Homo sapiens: one gene and its partners. The gene in region 3 interacts genetically with the main gene of each other region. Each region holds a gene or a part of one and is shown on either strand. Other genes may lie near its edges. The genes, in order: PDSS2, COPE and FH.

The links.
Region 1: changes in FH (region 3) and PDSS2 together harm fitness less than expected from each alone (positive genetic interaction), as found in Homo sapiens cells (one large-scale study listed by BioGRID).
Region 2: changes in FH (region 3) and COPE together harm fitness more than expected from each alone (negative genetic interaction), as found in Homo sapiens cells (one large-scale study listed by BioGRID).

Annotation. Positions count from the first base shown.
Region 1 is NC_000006.12:107,151,943-107,155,597, forward strand, and holds the end of PDSS2 (all trans-polyprenyl-diphosphate synthase PDSS2), read right to left. Parts: intron 2,836-3,655; coding exon 2,677-2,835; 3' UTR 620-2,676; downstream 1-619. UniProt on the Homo sapiens protein: Heterotetrameric enzyme that catalyzes the condensation of farnesyl diphosphate (FPP), which acts as a primer, and isopentenyl diphosphate (IPP) to produce prenyl diphosphates of varying chain lengths and participates in the determination of the side chain of ubiquinone.
Region 2 is NC_000019.10:18,898,926-18,902,451, reverse strand, and holds the end of COPE (coatomer subunit epsilon), read left to right. Parts: intron 1-2,002; coding exon 2,003-2,071; intron 2,072-2,504; coding exon 2,505-2,579; intron 2,580-2,725; coding exon 2,726-2,773; 3' UTR 2,774-2,938; downstream 2,939-3,526. UniProt on the Homo sapiens protein: The coatomer is a cytosolic protein complex that binds to dilysine motifs and reversibly associates with Golgi non-clathrin-coated vesicles, which further mediate biosynthetic protein transport from the ER, via the Golgi up to the trans Golgi network.
Region 3 is NC_000001.11:241,513,213-241,516,864, forward strand, and holds part of FH (fumarate hydratase, mitochondrial), read right to left. Parts: intron 502-3,652; coding exon 391-501; intron 1-390. UniProt on the Homo sapiens protein: Catalyzes the reversible stereospecific interconversion of fumarate to L-malate. Experiments in other species have demonstrated that specific isoforms of this protein act in defined pathways and favor one direction over the other.

The DNA of each region.
Region 1 (3,655 bases), on a different chromosome or scaffold from region 3:
TCAGTGCCCCAAATTTCTCCTTAGAGATTGTCTGAAACTATAAGAACTTCATATGTGCTAAGAAATAAATATCCCTGAAGAAGGGGCAGGGAGAAAGGCTATTGGTCTTGTATTTTGGAGTGAACTAGCCAACTTGTTATGTTCTGTAAAAGCCTGCCGTGATGCTGAGGAAGTGAGAATTCTGCTAAGTGGGGCCTGAGGAAGGAGGCCAGCCACCCCTGTGGGGGAGGCAGAGCTCTGTCACTCAGCAGGCAGCAGGGGGCTACTGCTCCCAGGGATCCAGGTTCCAGGGAGTCAGGATGGCAAGGTACAGGAGATGGGATAAAGGACACGAGAGCAGCTGGGAAGATGACAGGGAGGTAGGAAAGGTCCCGAAGAAAGCAGCAAGGCAGGTGTTGAGACAGAAAAGTCCAGGGTTACATGTCACATAGGAGAGCTGGAATCCTTTAGGTCATGCAGAGGCAGCTTGGCAGGAAGCTTGCCATTAAGCTCTCTCCATTCCTTCAGGGCCTCTCTTTGGGTTTCACCTTCCCTCCTCCCTGAACCTCACACAGCATCTTTGCTATTTAGACAGTCAAGAATAGTAAACTTTCAGAAAATAAAACAAACCTGGAAAGAATTTCATAATTATCTTGTTTAATCTCTTTTTTTTTTTCACACTTGACTTTCAGGTCAACTTTTGAATCTCATTGTACAGATGAGAAAATTGAGGCTCAGAAGGAAGTGACTTGTGCAAGGTCATACAGCAAACCAGATGCTAACGCAGAATAAGAGGCGCCCTAGGATCCTGCCTGGTGCCCTGCAGTGCCCGACCATCTGCTTAGTAAAACCTACTGCTTGCTGAAGTTCCTGCACATCCAACCAGCACACCTAACGCAAAGTATGACTTCTTTGTGGAAGTTAATGATTAAAACCTAGTCTGATCTAAAGCATCTTATCCATGGTTACTAATTAAGCCAATTTCAGTGACAGAAAGCATTTCAAACAGAACAGTGTTCTCTTAAGCTAAATCTATAGGCCTCAAATTATGGTGGCATAAACTGTACAATTATGATATTTTGAGTACACTTAAAATATTTTATAATACAATACATTAACCTCTGTAGCTTTACATTTTCTCTTCATTGCATGCCACATGTTGGGCCCTGATAAAATGGTTTTATAACTTTTGGGGGAGGGCTTTAACTAAAATAACTTCATGTAGTGTTTGAGCGAACTAGGTAATAAAATCTGTTTGCTGTATTCGCTGTCTCCAGATAGGGCTGTAATTACACCACATGAGGAAGAAAGGTAGCTGAGTTTCAATCTAGATCATTTATGTAAACTCAGCCTTCTTGTCAACGGTGTTCTCAAATTGCATGAGTGCAAACCTCAAAAATCATCTCCTATGAACCACACAGAGACAGTGTCCGATTGCAGGCCTGTGAGATTGCTTATATTCTTTCTGTAATTGGATGTCTGTGGTTCAAGACCAAAATTTGACATTCTGAGGTTAAAAGAACACTCTCACCAATGAATTCCCTAGTACAAAAATTCTGTTTCTGAAACTCGTAAAAATTAAAGTATGCCTTAAACCAAAGTATTACAAATGAATACATTTCACTTGAAAAAAAGCTCCTTTTTCCTTAAAGAAAAAAAAAATTTGGTTCTTTGAAATGTGTTTGAATAAAAAAACTGATCTTCAGGAAAGAAAAACAGACTATTCCTAATATAACCAATTTAACATTTGATAACATTTTAATCTCCTACTTCAAGTATTTGGCAACTTTTCGGCAATTTCTCCAAAAAGACATTATAAAAACCATAAAGCACAAAGTATATTCATACTGCATTATAAATCCAGAGACATGAGGCCAGGTGCAGTGGCTCAAGCCTCTAATCCCAGCACTTTGGGAGGCCGAGGCAGGCGGATCACCTGAGGTCAGGAGTTCGAGACTAGCCTGACCAACATAGTGAAACCCCATCTCTACTAAAAATACAAAATTAGCCAGGCGTGGTGGCAGGTGCCTGTAATTCCAGCTACTCGGGAGGCTGAGGCAGGAGAATCACTTGAACCCAGGAGGCGGAGGTTGCAGTGAGTCAAAACTGCACCATTGCACTCCAGCCTGGGCAACAAGAGCAAAACTACATCTAAAAAAAAAATAATAATAATCCAGAGACATAATTACAAGCCAACAAATAAAACATATTTTTCTCAATCCATTGAACTACTCTCCATTATGACAAATTGGTCACTAGTTTTTGATTAGACAATCCTCCCTGGTTGGTATTGAGAGCATTTCTCTTGACACCTGCAGCTTCCAACTTGCTTTGTCCTCTCTAGCAGGAAAAACCACAGGCCACCGCCCTGGCGCCATCCCTGGCTCGGTCCAATCAATAAGGACTTATTTCCTGTCCATTTGCTGAGGTCACAGGAGCGAATCTCATTAATTATTTCTGCGACTGCAGCCTCAAGTGTGCTTCTGGCGTGACAAGTGAAAACTGCTTGACCTTTTTTTCTTCTAATTTTGTTTGTAGCAGTTCCAAAAAGAAAGCAGAACTCATTTAGCAATGTGATAAAAGGAAGGAAAAATGCATATGTTTTAAAAGTCATTAACGCATCGTGAAAGCGCTCCCAATCAACCTCATTCCCTAGGATTTTCAGCTAACTAACAATAGTGTCTTTTTAATTTGATGTCATGAAAATCTGGTCACAGCAAACACAATGTTTTCTAAAGCAGATCTGGCCTCCGAGGGAGGAAAGCTCTCCAGGGCCTCCAGTGCCTTGTTTCCATGGTAACGACACAGGTCAATAGCTGAAGTCACACCTTTGCCAGCTTTGATTCTTTCTCGCAACTGTTAAGAAACAAATGCATGATAAAAGTCAGTTTTAAAGGTACACAGTAAGCACCACAATTAAATTGGGGAGGGGAGATGGAAAACAAAGAAAGGGAGAAATAGTATAGATTGAGTATTTCTGCTACGTTATTTTCTGGAAAAGAGGACATCATTTCCCAGTGATCTTGAGGCACTCATTCCCTAAGGCTGCTTGGTGTCTGTGCTCCAGAGCAGCACAATAGGTTCCAATCAGCTTAATTACAGCTCCTCCTGACTCCCATCCCTTAATATCTTGAAATGTGCCATGCTGGGGGATGGCAGTAAGAAGGCGGAGGGCATTTACATCTCTGGCATTTTGAATTCAGCAGCCTGATATTCTTCCCTTTTTTTTTTTTTTTTTTAAAGAGATGGAGTCTCGCTCTGTCGCCCAGGATGGAGTGCAGTGGTGCGATCTCGGCTCACTGCAACCTCCGCCTCCTGGGTTTAAGCAATTCTCCTGCCTCAGCCTCCCACATAGCTGGGACTACAGGCATGCGCCACCACACCCATCTAATTTTTGTATTTTTTAGTAGAGACAGCGTTTTGCCATGTTGGCCAGGCTGGTCTCGAACTCCTGACCTCAAGTGATCCACCTGCCTAGGCTGCCCAAAGTGCTGGGATTACAGGTGTGAGCCACCGCACCTGGCCAGCAGCCTGATATTCTTATGTGAGGAAGGCTTCACTAATATCTTAGTTAATAACTTTTTTTTTAACACCATATGTTGACACAATAGTCCATATGAAAATTCAAGAAAGACACATAGTATTAGATCTGAATGTTACTTTTTTTTTTTTTTTT
Region 2 (3,526 bases), on a different chromosome or scaffold from region 3:
CTCAGGTGATCCACCCGCCTCAGCCTCCCAAAGTGCTGGGATTATAGGCGTGAGCCACCACGCCTGGCCATCTGCAGTCTTTATGAAGAGTTTATGTTATGTTAAATTAAAAATATATATATATTTTGTAAAGACGGGGTTGTTCTTGCTGTGTTGCCCAGGTTGGTCTCGAACTCCTGGCCTCAAGTGATCGTCCCACCTCAGCCTCCCAAAGCATTAGGATTATAGGTGTGAGCCACCATGCTTGGTGGATTTTTTTTTTTTTTTTTTTTGAGATGGAGTCTTGCTCTGTCGCCCAGGCTGGAGTGCAGTGGTGTGATCTCGGCTCACTGCAAGCTCTGCCTCCTGGGTTCATGCCATTCTCCTGCCTCAGCCTCCCGAGTAGCTGGGACTACAGGCGCCCACCACCATGCCCAGCTAATTTTTTGTATTTTTAGTAGAGATGGGGTTTTGCTGTGTTAGCCAGGATGGTCTCAATCTCCTGACCTCATGATGCTGCCCACCTTGGACTCCCAAAGTACTGGATTACAGGCGTGAGCCACTGTGCCCAGCCTGGATTATTATTTTTATAATCAGAAAGGACATCAAAGCTTTTTCCATTTTGGAGAAACGAATTTTGGGGGGTTTTTTGTTTGTTTTTTGAAACGGTATGCCACCATGCGTGGCTAATTTTTGTATTTTTTGTTAGAAATGGGGTCTCACTGTGTTGTCCAGGTTAGTCTTGAACTCCTGGGCTCAAACAATTCTCACCCTCCTTGGCCTTCTAAAGTGCTGGGATGATAGACATGCGCCAGTGCGCCCAGCTGAGAAACAGTTTTAATCTAGTGACAAACACTGGTGAAGCCCTCCTCCCTGTCTGACTTTCCAGGGGCTGAGTTATCATCAGAAAGTTGTTTGCAGAGCGGGGCTGGCCAAGGGGTATCAGGCTGGCCCCATCACAGGCCGGGTACTGCTCCTCCTGAGCAGGGTCCATCTTTAGCTCTGAGCAGTCAGGGCTAGTCAGGAACTCCCAGCCTGATGTGCAATCTCAGACAGGCTGTGTGTCCCTCGCTGCCCCAGGGGCAAGACTGGCGCCCTCCTCCACCACCCTGCCCCTCCCTGCCACCTGAGAACACTTGGATGCATGTTGTGTTCATGGCCGCATCCTCTGGGGGCTTTTGTTACACCTCTCAGGTGACACGTTCCGTGACTCACCAGTTAGATGACTCCCTTCTGTCCTTGTCTCTTGAAACACCACCTGGGGCTGGCTGGCCGTGCCCCTTGGCCCTGGTGGCCTCCCCGTGGCTGTGGTCACCCTGCATTCTTGCTGGGTTTTGGGAGGCACTCAGGTCCCCCCACTTCCCTTTGGAGCCACCTCATGGCTGCTCCTGTGAGCGCAAGCTGGTGTCCCCCTTCATGGTGGAGACTGAGGCTCAGAAAAGTCCGGTCTGCAAAAAGGTGCCCTGCCATGGGCCGCCGTGGGCAGGTCGGGCTCTGGGCGCATCCTCGTTGGTGTGTCTGTGCTCCAAGCAGACACCAGGGCTCTGGCTGGGTCTCCTGGCCTAGATGTTTCCTAGGGTCCTGTGTGCTGGGAGCCTAGAGTGAGTGAGTCAGGCAAGGTCCCCTGCCGAGGTCTCCTTCAAGGCTCCTTGGGAGCTGGTGCAGGGGTGGCAGGTCTGCCCATGGCCTCGGGGTTCGTTGTACAGCAGGAGTTGAGGCCATCTGGGTCTGGGCCCCATGGCTTTGAGATGTGTGGGACAAATACAACCTTCCCAAGTCTCTGTAAACAAGGGGTCGTACCCCAGGCTGGACTACAGATGGGGAAACTGAGGCTCAGCGAGGCGGCTGGCCCCTTGGCACCGTATCATCTGAGATCTCCACCTTGCAGAGCGGTGGGCGGTGTCAGTCCCACCCCACCTCTGAGGAGGTGACCTTGTGTGGTGCTGCCTGAGGTGGGGGTGACGGGCAGGCATGGGGGCTGGAGTGGCTGACCCTGCCTCCCCGTGTCTGCCTGTGTCTCCAGGATAGTGGCTACCCAGAGACGCTGGTCAACCTCATCGTCCTGTCCCAGCACCTGGGCAAGCCCCCTGAGGTAAGCGGCCCCCAGGGCTCCAGGCCAACCCTAATGTCCAGACCCTGGGACCCCAGCCTGGGGTCCAGGCCCTAATCCCTAGGCCCCTGGGAAAACTCTGTATACAGTATGCCTACCGCAGCCCACCTCCCTCACAAACCCTGTGCCCCCCAACCCATCCTCACCTGGGGCCCTGCCCGACCTGCTCCCCTGAACACCACAATACATCCCCCACCATGTACGGAGGCCAGCTCCATGCCAGCGCCTCTCCAGGGGGCAGGCCCATCCCTCCACCCCCACCCTGAAGGTTCTCCGAGATCAGCCCAGTCCCAAGGCAGGGTGAGGAGCCCCCTGGGGTACTGTGGCTCTCACCCCAATCCACCCCTGTCCAGCAGGTCAGAGCCACCGTGGGGTCCCCGTGTTCGGCTCACCTGCCTCCCTGCCTCCCCTGCAGGTGACAAACCGATACCTGTCCCAGCTGAAGGATGCCCACAGGTCCCATCCCTTCATCAAGGAGTACCAGGCCAAGGTGAGTGGTGGGGATGGCCTGTCCCCGAGAACCAGGCCAGGGGGCGCCTGGAGCTCAGCCTGGGCTCACATGCGCCCTCTCTCTCTCCCTCCACCTGTCTCCCCACACCCTGCCCCCACCCTGTGTTGCCATGTGTCTTGCTAAAGGAGAACGACTTTGACAGGCTGGTGCTACAGTACGCTCCCAGCGCCTGAGGCTGGCCCAGAGCTGTCAGGACCATGAAGCCAGGACAGAGGCCAGGAGCCAGCCCTGCAGCCCTCCCCACCCGGCATCCACCTGCATCCCCTCTGGGGGCAGGAGCCCACCCCCAGCACCCCCATCTGTTAATAAATATCTCAACTCCAGGGTGTTCCACCTGATGATGTGCTCTGGTCACTTTGCTGGGGGCGTGTGGGAGCTGACGCTCAGGGAGAGTCCTGGGGCACTGGCATCCAGGGCTGTTCCTGGAGACCAGGGTCTGTGACGAGCAGCAGGTGTGCAGACCCCCACCCCGCCCCTCACACAGCCACAACCTGCTCCTGCAGGCCAGAGGCAGCACAGCCCTGTCCCCATGCTTCACCCTGGCCCCTAGAGGCCACTGAGCAGCCCTGGTTGGCATCGGGGGAAACTGAGGCACAGAGAAGTCATGCCGCTATCATGAGGGGCACCAAGATTCAAAATGAGAACCCCTAGTGGCCTGGAGGAAGTGGGGGCCAGGGCAGGAAAAACTCAGGCCTCAGCTCAGCAAAGCCGGAGGGGCCCTGCAGGGTCAGCGTTAACCCCAGGTGCTGCTCCTGCCGCCCCGCAAACCCTCCTCCAAGGCAGAGTCCTGCTGTGGCAGGGTCCTGGGGCCAAGCACCCAGCCGCGATGAGAGGCGGCCGCACCATTTAGGGAGGGAGGTGGGTGGGTGGCAGCAGGGCTGGCCGGAGCCTCCCAGATGTCACCATTGAGCTGTGCCCACCCGAAC
Region 3 (3,652 bases):
TTAAGACAATGTTATTAGCATATTAGTAAAATTACATTCTCAATATGCATTATCAAATAATCAACTGGTTTTAAAAAGATTTATATATAAAATAAAAAATCAAGTAAAGTTCAAATGATATCTTTTCAAAAAATTTTCTTAAAACTATATAAATTAAGGAAAGTCAAAAGGCTTAAAAACAAAAGGTATAAAATCATCCAGAAATTTTGTCACAATGTAACGTTTTAAGCACCATATTAATATCACCACTAAAAATAATGCTACCACCCTCCCCTGAAATTCATTAATTCAAGAATTCACAGTTCCCCTTTCCTTCTGCCAGAGCATATCGTCATCCAGAGTATGGCATGGGTCTGAGGTTATTAAGCAAACACACTTATCACCTCCTACCTCATCTGCTGCCTTCATTATTGCATTAGCAATCTTTGGATCAAGACCATAATCCTGGTTTACTTCAGCGGCCGCTCGCTTCAAGATGCCAAAAGCTTTAATAACTGGGGTCTAAAATTAATCAGAAAAATATTTCAAATTTACAATTTTACTTAAGCATGGAAGTTTATTATTTTGGCAGATGCAAAAGCTATACATAAAACAATAACAATAAAACAGTAACACTATAGCTCTAAAATGTTTCGGTTATAGAGAAAGATTATAGACAGGAATTCATGAACCAAGAATCAACATTATCATAGATCTATTTGTTTAAGGAACCAAATAAAAACAAATACATTGACTCTTCATATATATATGTGTGTACGTCTCCCACATACATATACACACATATTCACACGAATACAATCCTATGCACAAATACACACAATAAATTATATGTGTTTATTTCATATACTATAAATAAAAACAAATTTAGTACTCAATCTTTTCACCAGCAAGAACCATTATTTTCTCTTACTGGATCCCACGTTACATTATAATTGTTTCCTTCCCCTCTTAAAAAAATAAATAAATAAGGGATATATTTAACTGCCAATCAGTATGAGACTACCAGTGACTGACTGGGTTATCATTTCACCCCAAGGCCAAAAAGCAATCTATTCTACTTAGCTAGTAAAGCCTTAATACTCAGTAACTCCCTGGACATTTCTCTCAGAAGAATTATTTTTTTAAACCCAAGATTCTCCAGACCTAAAGGTGACAGCTTCCGATATATATAAAACCCCATTAATGCAGATATTTTCATTGTCTATCCCAAATCACCTCACCAAGCTTGAAAAGGATAAACTGAAATGAAAACCTAGTTTTTATAAGACAAGTGAATTGTGAGTTCTTGTCAAAATTAATAATACAGATTGTTGTATAGATCCCACACCAGGTTTGAATGGGGAAAGAGTAGAAGGGAGAAAGGGAAGAAAGGAAGAGAATGATGAATGTATAAGAGAGAACCTGCTATCTCTGGAATCAAAGTAGAAAAAGCCAAGAAAAGTAAGAAATAAGACACATTAAAAACATAAACCTGGACCAGAGTAAGTATAAGCTGAGGGTCAAATAGAAAAGGAAAACCAGAAAATTTGAAATTTCAATTTTAAGTAACTAAAATTAAAACATTAGAAACGTTTGACTCAAACGAAATGAGGACAGATGGCACACAGGATTAGAAACTTAAAAACTTTAAACACAAAAACAAATGGGAATTTAAATCTCCACAGTAACAAACACTGAGGTAGTGGGCTGAACCACTACCAAGGGCAAAGGTGAATGCCAATCAACGCTGGCCATCTGAATGGAGTGAATGACCCCCAGTGTTTATGGACCATAAAAATAAAAAAGGGTCATTCACAGCAGAAAGAGGTTCAACGAACACCATAAAATGGCAAAATGTATCACTAGAGAGAAAAGACAGGTCACTTTATTCTTAATTTATTCACATTAGATGTTCATAATCTTTTTAGCTTTGTTTTCCTCTGGACCTCAAGTAAAAAGGGTTGAGTTTAATCATACTACTCAGTTTAGAGTACATACAGACTGTTTTACACATAATAAAGTTCAGAAAGTATGACAAAATCGAGACCCCAGGTGTCTGCCTTTCACAGGTGTGCAATCCCAATGGCTGTGCTGTCTCTGGAGCAGCAGCAGCAGGAACCATGCCCCACCAGAACCACAAAACATGCTGGTGACACAGATCAATGAAAACGGCAGCCATGCTCACTCCCACCAACACTAGCTGGGGCTGACCTCCTCCTTAGTCTCTGGAGTTGAATAATATGAGATTATTTTAGGATTGGTCACTACCCTTTTTCACCTAACCACGTAGTCAAACTATGTTTACCTCACCACCAAGAAGGCTGTAGATGGCAATGACAAAGATATTCTCATCAAAGATTCAGCTGCCTGTTGTAAAGTTCTATATACCTGTCAAGAGGCAGTCTTGAAGGCTTAGGAATGACTTAAAATTATTGAAAATAAAAGCATATTTATAAGATAAGTGTTAAACAATATCTCACAGGATGAAGCCTATCTACTTCTAGGCTTACTAGCCTATCCTGCATTGACTATTTTTCATACTCCGGTTGGGCTCCCGTAGAATATGTTATGCATTTCTCAATTCTTTTCACACTTTAACATCTCTGAAATCAAGATGTATCTTGTAATCAATGGTAAGTCACAACCTTAATTGGTAGCATTTTTCTTTCTTAGTGGTGCCTATTGGTGCATCTTCTAATTAATGGCATCTTAAATTTAATTGAATGTGGTAGAAAGTTTTCTCATCATTTAATCATTCATATGGAATTGAATAAATACTTATATATTATCTATTATATGTCAGACATGGTTAAGAGTAATACTTTGATGTGTTTGTGTACTATACACTTTTTAGGAAACTGAAACCAAAATACAAAGTGTAATTTTAAAAAATCTCAGTTTTAAATTAGTGGGGGAAAAAAGAATGAGTATTGAAATAAAAATATTTACAAACTGTAGAACCCTAGTAAAAATCTGTAAATACCCAGCAAGAGTGAAAAGACAATCATTTAGTTCTGCCAAATAAAAATCCAAAATAACTATTCACAATAGCAAAGACATGAAATCAACCCAAATGTCCATCAATAAAGGATAAAGAAAAAGTTGTATATATCCACCATGGAATATTATGCAACCATAAAAAAGAATGAGATCATGTCCTTTGCAGAGATATGGATGGAGCTAGAAGCTGTGACCCTCAGCATACTAACAGAGGAACAGAAAACCAAACCCGCATGTTCTCACTTGTAAGTGGGAGCTGAACAATGAGAACATATGGACACAAGGAGGGGAACAAAGCACACAGGGGCCTGTGGGCGGAGGGGGAGCAGCAGAAAAAATAGCTAATGCCGGGTTTTAATATCTAGGTGATGGGTTGAGAGGTGCAGCAAACCACCATGGCACACATTTACCTATGCAACAAAACTGCATATCCTGCATGTGTATCCCGGAACTTAAAATTAAATTAATTTTTTTTTTTTTGAGACGGAGTCTCACTCTGTCGCCAGGCTGGAGTGCAGTGGTGCGATCTCAGCTCACTGCAACCTCCGCCTCCCGGGTTCAAGCAATTCTCCTGTCTCAGCCTCCAGAGTAATTGGGACTACAGGCGCGCGCCACCGTGCCCGGCTAATTTTTGTATTTTTAGTAGAGACAGAGTTTCACCATGTTGGCCAGG